3 linked regions of the Homo sapiens genome follow. Changing the gene in region 1 together with any one later gene gives a genetic interaction. Each region holds a gene or a part of one and is shown in the gene's direction. Other genes may lie near its edges.

Region 1 (3,660 bases):
GGTATTTTTGGTCTGTCAGTGGTAGTCTTTCAAACTACAGAGTATATTAATGGTTAGCATAGCATTTTTTCATAGTGAACACTTTCAAAAACATCTCCACTATTCATTATCTCACCTAAAACCAAAATCACACTTAACCTCCTATTTTCCCTGGTGGGCCTTAACCTAAAGGCAGGTTGTTACTGTCTCCAGTGCAAAATAGGCTGTCCTTTCAGAACTTGTGTGTCTCCCCCTATTCTGGCCATTGTGGTAAGTGGTAAATTTAAACACCTCCCAACATAGCCTTTATACAGTGGTTAGGAAAAGTTGATGAATTGGTATAAAACTACTATCTGGAAAGGAGAGAAGGGGAAGCTACATGCAGGGGTCCCTGGGCCAGAGTAGGAATGAGGAGGATTCTCCTTTCTCCTAAGGAGCGTATTCCTCATTTGGGTTAACTGGCCCCTCATTCTGCTGTCTTGGCAGATGTCTTTTGTTGCCATTTGCAGGCTCCTAACCTGAGAGGGGCATTAGAGGGGTTCCGCTTCTGGGAGGGATGCTGCCTTTGCTCCTCCTGAAGCCCGTTTATTTTGATGCGAGTTCTTGTTTAGCAGCTCTTGGACTTTCCCAGACTTTTTGACATTTTCTCTGATTTAAAACCATACTGGGCATTTTGTAGATTTACTTTTGATTGATTTGTATTAAGTCAACTTCCCGAGTTGGCAATGGCAGGCAGAGAAATCTTGTTTAGTCATAATATTTGACTGTATAGACCAGGCTGGGGTTTCTCTCTTTTAACATCTGGCGTTAGAGCTTGGCACATATCTCTGACCCCAGCTTAATGACCTCTTGTTTTGAGCTCCACTTTAGGACAGTTTGAAGCTACAATTTGAGATGGGGAGGTTAATCGATACTGTCACTAGGTGAAGAATGTACATGGTAATTCTTAGGAGGGGTTTGGGAAGTACCTGGGAACTAGGCAGTAGCATCTCTCCTAGTGACGATCAAAATGTCTCCAGACATTGCCAAATGACAACTGGAATGAGGGTGGGTGGCGGTAAAAATGATTGAGAAACTCAGCATTAGACCATGCAACAGAAAATGCCAGTTGAGGCAGCACTTGTCTATCTTGGTTCTCATTTGACCAAGAGAAGCTTTTTACTCCAAAGGCATACTACTGAATGTCTGTGTGATACAAGGGTATAAGAAATAATACTTGTTACTTCTTTGATATTACTCTTAAGTGATTTATTTATTTTTTAAGTTACTGACTTTGTGACTTATTTAATTCATATTAATATATTAGGCTTCCCAACTGACGGTGTTGCAGTTGAGCTAGCTTCCAGTTTTGGAGAAACACATAGTTGATTAGTTCTGTCAGTAATTTTCAGGGATATTAATATAACTTTGATATTAGTGAGAAATTTTCTTTCAGTAGTAAAATGTTTTCTAACTTAGGAGCTGTTAAATTTATGATCCAGTAGTTCAAAAGACTACAAAAAAGAACTTTTAAAACCATGCTTGAATGTACTTTTAGAGTATTCTGTGTTTTTAGAATACTTGGAATTTCAGAGAACAAATGAAAGTTGTATCTTCTTGCCACAAAATTCATATGTGCTTATTTGAGCGGTGTCATGCAAATGTACTCACTGATGAAGTTTAGATTTAATTTTAATGACCCTGGTAATAATAGTTCTCTTTAATGGAAATAAGCATTAGCCAGGATAATCACATATTATCACTGAAACTTGTTATCAGTTTTATTTTTATAAGCTGATTTATATAAAGATTTTGGCACTCTGTTTCAGGTGGCTCCTTATTTAAAAAAGGATTAAGAATATTGTATATATGTATTCTAGGTAATTTACAAAAATAATTTTCTTATGGTAATTTTGCTTATTAATGTCAGTAGTTTCAAGAACTAGTTAGGCTTAGGTGCCCCTTAAATTTAGTATTAGGTGGTGTGCTCTTGGACCAACTATTTAATTACTAAGATGTATTGAATTTTATATGGGACACAAAAGTTCTGAGATTAGTGCTCTTAACATTTTATTTATAAATAGGATAATAAACTTAATTCTTCATATTATTCCATTTGTAAATGACCATTTTACATTTCATGGAAATTCTGTAAATTTTTGCATTAATATTAAGTAAAATTATAGAATTATTTGACAAGAAACTGACATTCTTGTGAGAAGCAAAATATTATAGTTAATCATTGAAAATATACAGAAATTTCTTTTCTCCCTCTTCTCCCACTCTTCTCTTTCCCTTCTTTCATATTCTATTTTTTGCATCCATATTGAATGCTTAGTCTTCCAAATTTATTCAATTCTCTTTGAAAAGTATTGAGTCATCTTTGAGATAAATGTAGTTTGAACTATTATGGGCATTGGATAGGGAGGAGCAGGAATGCAAATCTTGCTTACTGTCTCTATACTCAAAACATTTACAATAAGCAGTATATTACTGAGAAACTAACTTATCACATGTTGATAAATCACCTTTTGAAGAGAAGTGCAAAAGGAAAGTGGTGCTAGTGAAGAACCCAAAATGCCTATTAAAGGTTTTTCTTGCTTTTTTTTTTTTTTTTTTGAGACAGAGTCTTTTCTGTTTCTCAGGCTGGGAGTGCAGTGGCGTGATCTTGGCTCACTAAAACCTCTACCTCCTGGGCTCAAGCTATCCTGCCACCTCAGCCTCTTGAATAGCTGGAACTACAGGTGTGCACCACAAGTCTGGGCTAATTTAAAAAAAAATTTTTTTTGTAGAGATGAAGTGTCACTGTATTGCCCAGGCTGGTCTGGAATTCCTGGCCTCAAATGATCCTCCCACCTCAGCCTCCCAAAGTGTACTCCTGGCTGGTTTCTCATATATAAAAAAGGAAAATAGTTTCTGGTATGTGTCTAGACATAAAAGGATAAACTCTAAATTTAGTAGGTGGAAATAATCTGAAGTTAAGCTCTCACTTTTAGCTTTGGGGTAGATTTGATTTAACAGGAAGACTCAATCTGTGTTTCTCAGGAAAAGTATGTTATTATTGCTTGAATAAACCATATCGTATAATTCTTACAGATCAGAAAGATACCTTATCTTTGAAAATGCATTGTACCTTTTTAAGTAGTGATTTATTTATTTTTATTTTATCTTATTTTATTTATTTTTTTGAGACAGAGTCTTGCTCTTTCGCCAGTCTGGAATTCAGTGGCGCAATCTTGGCTCACTGCAACCTCCGCTCGCTGCAACCTCCGCCTCTCAGGTTCAAGTGATTCCCCTGCCTCAGCCTCCCGAGTAGCTGGGACTACAGGCGCACGCCACCATGCCCAGCTAATTTTTTTTTGTATTTTTAGTAGAGATGGGGTTTCGCCATGTTGTCTGGGATAGTCTCCATCTCTTGACCTTGTGATGTGCCTGCCTCAGTCCCCCACAGTGCTGGGATTACAGGCGTGAGCCACTGCGCCAGGCCTAAAGTAGTGATTTATTTTTATTTTCAAAGTAACTTTATAGCTACATAAGAACACTCATTGGTGGTTTATTTATCAGTACTAATGGACACAGGCCCTGAGAAGCCATCAAGAGGTCAGTCATCTTAGTCCCAGTATTTGCTTTTTGATAATTGGATCTCTCCTACACTGACCAAACATAACTCCTGAGTAGTGTGGGCTGTTTTAATTTTTAAAA
Region 2 (3,660 bases), on another chromosome or scaffold:
CATGAGTTCGATGCTAATGAATCAATGTATATTAAAGATATATTTAGGCAGAAACACGCATAAAAAAGGTTATGCATTGATCAGTTGGCAACAGTGTTGTGACCAGAGGCTTGTGAGAACTGTATTTCCCCTAGGAGCAATGGCTCAGTATTTGTTAATTCAGTGGTTGCAGCAATTTTATAGAACACAATTACTGTGAATGGGAATCAACTGTATTTGATTAACGGTGGTGATTTATAGGGACTTTAGATACCAGAAATGTTTCATAATTCCCTTTCTCTGAAATCACTGTTTTAATATGTTTAAATGCATGCATGCAGAGTTGTGATGTTAAACATAATTTTACTGTGGGTTCTGGTCAAAAAAGATGAAATGTCATTGGTTAACTTGAAAGAGACATTATTCTAAACATTATCCTCCAGAAAATTGACATGTACAGGAAGCATATTGAATGCTCAGCAAATAATTTGTTTTAGAGTAATAATCTTTGAGTATTGTAGTGATTCGAGTTTTGGAAAAGAAGGCAGTATCAGTGTTAGAGAATAATATTCTTTCAGGATTTTATGTAGTTACTTTAAGGTGCATGAAAGGAGACTCAGTTGGGTGTTAAATTCTTGTCCCTGCTTTACTTGAAACTAGTAATCTTGAGAAATTTACTAAATCATTTTGAGCCTTGATTACCTTGCCTGCAAAGTGAGGAACATTTTCAATTTAAAATTCTATTTCTTTTATTAGTATTCTTCCTGACCTTGAATCATTTCTATTCCCATCATGTCCAGTTGCCAAGAAAACCATGCAACTTAATGTTGTTTGTTAGCCATCAGATTTTATTTTACTGAACTCAAGTTCAGTCACATCAGTTACCGATAAAATAATAAGTTCTATATTAATATTTGATATATCTTGACATTTTGTATTATGGTAGGAAGAAATAAAAGACCTTCCTCAAATTTTAGGATATGGGCTTCTGTTTGTTGATGTTTGTGTTTTATGATACACTGTTGTAAATCATACTAAAGGTTTTCTCTGAAAAAGACTAGAATTGACAATACTTCATTTGTTAGCAGTTTCAAGTTTTAGATCACGGGTGCATAATTTCTTGTGTGTGCACAACATGTTGGCATTTTATCTGACTTCAAAGATGTCCATATAGATACCAGCAAAGGATAAAATGTAAGAATGAATATCATGAAAAGATGCTGTATCAGATAAAATTCTAGAGCCTAGGTTAAAAAACATAAAGGCAAACATGCTTGATATATAAAAATTGAGAAATATGATAAAAAGAAGTAAGTTTAAAGCATCAGTAATACCACTGCCTAAGATGCAGTTTATTTTGAAATGTTGTCTTCTAGTCTTCATACAGTTTAAAAATCATACTATAATCACAATTTCCAGCATTTTCCCCTTAGCATAATATATTATAACATCCATGTTTTTAAAAATATTTTATGAACGTCATGTTTAGGGATTACACCATATATATCCCATCTCATAGATTCCTTTATATTGAACATTTGGATTTTTATTTACATTTTTATTTACATTTATTTTTATCTTTATTTTTTGCTTTCGTGGATAAACTGCAGTGAGCATCCTCTGTATAAATTTTTTTTTTCTGTTTTAGGATTACTTCCTTAGGATAGATTGCCAGAAGTGGAGTTACTGGGTCAGAGGGTATGAACTTATGAACTTTTTTTTTAAATAAATTTTTTGTTCATTTTCTGTCCAGTCATTTGTAAAAAAATTAAAATAATAATGATTATAATTGTTACCTGCTAGAAAACTGTGTCTGAAGGCAAGATTCTGTGATCAGAAAAGTTTGGGAAATACCCAGGGTAAAAAGCCTTTTAATCTGATTTACCTCAGCATTTCCCAAATTAACTGAACACTGAAAATTTTTTTTGATACACTTCTTAAAATTTTGTGGAAGTTTTATATAGGATATAGTCTATGAACTACTGATGTAAAATTAAAATTGTTTTATTTGCTTGAAATATTATGTTTTATTGGTCAAAGGAATTAAACTATAAATCTTCATGCTAAAAATTATTAAAAGGGATTAGTGTTGTTTACTATGGTTTTTGTGCATGTCTTTATAAAGTCTTATAACTTTTAAAATTGAAATGTTCTATATTGTTTACTAAAGAACATTTTAATGCCTTGGTGGCATCAATACTTTTTTGCAATCATTAATGATATTTAGAAAGTAGACATATAACATGAAAGTAGAACATAATATAGATTGTACAAATCTTGTTTTTTACCCTATTTTCCCCTGCAGAATGTGAAAACCTTTGCATCTTCTGATAGTCTAGCCAAGGTCCAAGAAGTAGCAAGCTGGCTTTTGGAAATGAATCAGGAACTGCTCTCTGTGGGCAGCAAAAGACGACGAACTGGAGGCTCTCTGAGAGGTAACCCTTCCTCAAGCCAGGTAGATGAAGAACAGATGAATCGTGTGGTAGAGGAGGAACAGCAACAGCAACTCAGACAACAAGAGGAGGAGCACACTGCAAGGAATGGTGAAGTTGTTGGAGTAGAACCTAGACCTGGAGGCCAAAATGATTCCCAGCAAGGACAGTTGGAAGAAAACAATAATAGATTTATTTCGGTAGATGAGGACTCCTCAGGAAACCAAGAAGAACAAGAGGAAGATGAAGAACATGCTGGTGAACAAGATGAGGAGGATGAGGAGGAGGAGGAGATGGACCAGGAGAGTGACGATTTTGATCAGTCTGATGATAGTAGCAGAGAAGATGAACATACACATACTAACAGTGTCACGAACTCCAGTAGTATTGTGGACCTGCCCGTTCACCAACTCTCCTCCCCATTCTATACAAAAACAACAAAAGTGAGTATATTCAATATATTGTTAACCTGAGAAACTTTACATATCTATTTTAATTGTAATGAAACTTTCCTCACAGTCTTTGTATTACTAAAAATTAATCTTAAGATGTGTAATAATAAAATGAACTAGTTTTTTGTCTTACAGAAGGTAATGGAAAGTATTACAAGTAGAAATACTGATAATGGGACAATCTGAGTACAAATGGAGGGAAAGTAATTGAGCCTATTACTATGAAAAATTATTAACATCAAATTTTCGTCTAAACCTTGCGTCCCGGGCAGGGATTAGTAGCTTGTGTGGGGTGTAGAGGTTTCGGGTGAAACATGATTTGTGTAAATCAAGTAATGAAGAAACTTTTTATTTACAAAATGCAGCTGCTAGAGTGGGCTATTCACAAGTGTCACTCTAAGGCATAAATTACTCAGAAGTTGCCTCAAATTAGTTCTAGTTATTTATCATTTGAGAATTAGAAATAATGAATATTCATGTAGAGTAGACTTACAAGTTAAACTATGTTTTGGAAAGGAACATTTTAACTTGAATATACTTGTTTTATAGACATTAACATAATGTCTGTGGTAGTTCATCCTCTTACTCCTACTTGCTTATTTCTTACATTTTACAGTGATTTTAGGCCATAAACAATATACAAACTGATTTAACATCGTATCGTTTAACCTAACTTGACTTGGAATGAAGTATCTTACACACTTGGATTAATAATAATTGAAATGCTAAATCATGTTTTACATCTGCTTGTAAAACCTTACTTTCTAAAATGTGTTTGGCCCTAATTTACCTAGCCT
Region 3 (2,469 bases), on another chromosome or scaffold:
CTGAAGGAGCATCAGGAGCAAGCAGGGAGGCCAGAGTGAGGGGCTTGGGTGTTGGGGAGGGCCTCAGGAGGAGGTGCAGGGTGCGGGTGCGGGACCTCACAGAGCAGGGCTGGGGGCAGAGGCAGGAGGGTGGCAAAGAAGGGACAGGGAGCAGAAGAAGAGGGCCTCAAATGCCTGACTGAGCGAGTGCGAGCCACGGGTGCCAAGCAGAGGGAACCCCTTCAGAAAGGGGAGCCAGGGTCAGTACCTTTGGGCCACCATGACCTCCAGCCCTGCTGCTCCCCAGTTGGTTCCACGGCAAGATCACACGGGAGCAGGCTGAGCGGCTTCTGTACCCGCCGGAGACAGGCCTGTTCCTGGTGCGGGAGAGCACCAACTACCCCGGAGACTACACGCTGTGCGTGAGCTGCGACGGCAAGGTGGAGCACTACCGCATCATGTACCATGCCAGCAAGCTCAGCATCGACGAGGAGGTGTACTTTGAGAACCTCATGCAGCTGGTGGAGGTGAGCTGGGGGGTACAGAGCCTTGCTCCCACCCTCACACACCCTAAACCCATCTGGGGCCCTGGCTTCTAGCTCCAGCCCCACTGCTTCTGCGTGGTGACCAGCCATGTGGGGCAACTTCTGTGAGCCCTTGTTTCCTCACACCTTGGTGGAGCAGCTGCTGCGTGCCAGGACTCACCTCTGACCCCACAGTGCCACCATGAGGAGGGGAGCCTTATCCTCATTTTATAGACCAGGAGTTGAAGGTTCAGAGCAGTTAGGGGACCCACCTGAGGTCCCACAGATATAATTTGGTGCCAGGACTAGAATCTGAGTCTGTCTGATCCCAGAGCTAACTTTCCTCCAGCCACTCACAGACCTGCATGCTCAGAAGCGTGTGCAGAAACATGAGCCATGCGCCTTGATCGCCAGGGCCCCTGAGGCTCTCGCACCTGCACGGACATGCCCACAGGTCCCTGCAGCTTCCCAGGCCAGCTCTGCCAGCCCTGGCCAGGCCACACCTGGCATCCGGTAGCCACAGGAAGCCTCCCGTGTCCCTCTGTATTCACTCTTATCTCCCTCCCCTACTGGCCTGGCTTGGCCTGTGGCAGGTGAGGGTGGGGTCCTGGGCACTCCTGGCTAGAGGCTGGTTTCAGGACTGAGCCATGGGTTGCCCTCTGCATCAGATACCCATGGGGCCCAGAGTGGTAGCAGCAGCTGAGTGTCCAGCAACCGCATGTAGGGTGGCATGGGAAATGGGCCATACGTCATAATCTGGGACTTCCCTAACCCCTGCCCTACCAGAAATGGGGAGCCCTCCCCACTCAGTGACTCCAGGCTAGGCGGGGCTGGCCTCTGCCGCCCTCTGGTGGTCAGGCCTGGACGGTGCATATGGGGCACCTTGGGCTGTCTCTGAGCACCCTGCCCCCCACACCCTGCAGCACTACACCTCAGACGCAGATGGACTCTGTACGCGCCTCATTAAACCAAAGGTCATGGAGGGCACAGTGGCGGCCCAGGATGAGTTCTACCGCAGTGAGTGCACCCCACCCCAGACCTCTTGCCCACCCACCTCCTCCCACGCAGGCTTCCTGGCACTGCCCCATCCAGGAACCTCCAGAGAACCCCAGTGCCTGATAGTCCAGTCAGCCTCTGTCATCCCAGCCATGTCCCTAGTGGCCTCCAGGCCCTCACTGGCCCCTCCCCACAGGCGGCTGGGCCCTGAACATGAAGGAGCTGAAGCTGCTGCAGACCATCGGGAAGGGGGAGTTCGGAGGTGAGCTGGGCCGGGCCCCCTGGGGGGGTTCTGAGGGACTCCGAACTTGGGAACAAGACCACCTCTCTGCCCCCAGACGTGATGCTGGGCGATTACCGAGGGAACAAAGTCGCCGTCAAGTGCATTAAGAACGACGCCACTGCCCAGGCCTTCCTGGCTGAAGCCTCAGTCATGACGTGAGTGGGGGCGGGGTAGGGGGGAGGTTGGCCTAGGTTAGGAGTGAGGCACCAGCTTCCCCTTTCTGACCACTCTCGTCCTGCCCCAGGCAACTGCGGCATAGCAACCTGGTGCAGCTCCTGGGCGTGATCGTGGAGGAGAAGGGCGGGCTCTACATCGTCACTGAGTACATGGCCAAGGTGGGCACCTGCCGAGACCCGGCACTCAGGCCTTCCAACTGCCCCGAAACCCCCACTGTGCTCTAGGGCCCCTGCTCCCTCAGTCCCCCGACCCCAAGTGAGCTTTTAGGTCACCAGGGCTGGGCTTTTGTCCTGGTTTACCATTCATTGACTGTAACATTGGACAAATCATGTCACCTCCAAGCCTCAGCATCACATCTGGGAAATGGAGATAATAACAACTTAGAGATTTGTGAGAGTCAAGGGATAAGGCATGAATAACACAGAGCAGTGTCCGGCATGGATGTTCTGGCCCCTCCCCACTCCTTCCCTGTCTCACACCTCCCTGGAGTGTCAACACCCACCCGGCCCC

What was found.
Region 2: changes in PHF20L1 (region 1) and FBXW7 are lethal when combined (synthetic lethality), as found in Homo sapiens cells (one study listed by BioGRID).
Region 3: changes in PHF20L1 (region 1) and CSK are lethal when combined (synthetic lethality), as found in Homo sapiens cells (one large-scale study listed by BioGRID).

Annotation. Positions count from the first base shown.
Region 1 is NC_000008.11:132,778,286-132,781,945, forward strand, and holds part of PHF20L1 (PHD finger protein 20-like protein 1), read left to right. Parts: intron 1-3,660.
Region 2 is NC_000004.12:152,410,497-152,414,156, reverse strand, and holds part of FBXW7 (F-box/WD repeat-containing protein 7), read left to right. Parts: intron 1-1,627; 5' UTR 1,628-1,677; intron 1,678-2,284; 5' UTR 2,285-2,353; coding exon 2,354-2,854; coding exon of another isoform or gene 2,855-2,884; exon of another isoform or gene 2,885-2,997; intron 2,998-3,660. UniProt on the Homo sapiens protein: Substrate recognition component of a SCF (SKP1-CUL1-F-box protein) E3 ubiquitin-protein ligase complex which mediates the ubiquitination and subsequent proteasomal degradation of target proteins.
Region 3 is NC_000015.10:74,798,986-74,801,454, forward strand, and holds part of CSK (tyrosine-protein kinase CSK), read left to right. Parts: intron 1-286; coding exon 287-506; intron 507-1,426; coding exon 1,427-1,520; intron 1,521-1,695; coding exon 1,696-1,761; intron 1,762-1,837; coding exon 1,838-1,937; intron 1,938-2,026; coding exon 2,027-2,117; intron 2,118-2,469. UniProt on the Homo sapiens protein: Non-receptor tyrosine-protein kinase that plays an important role in the regulation of cell growth, differentiation, migration and immune response.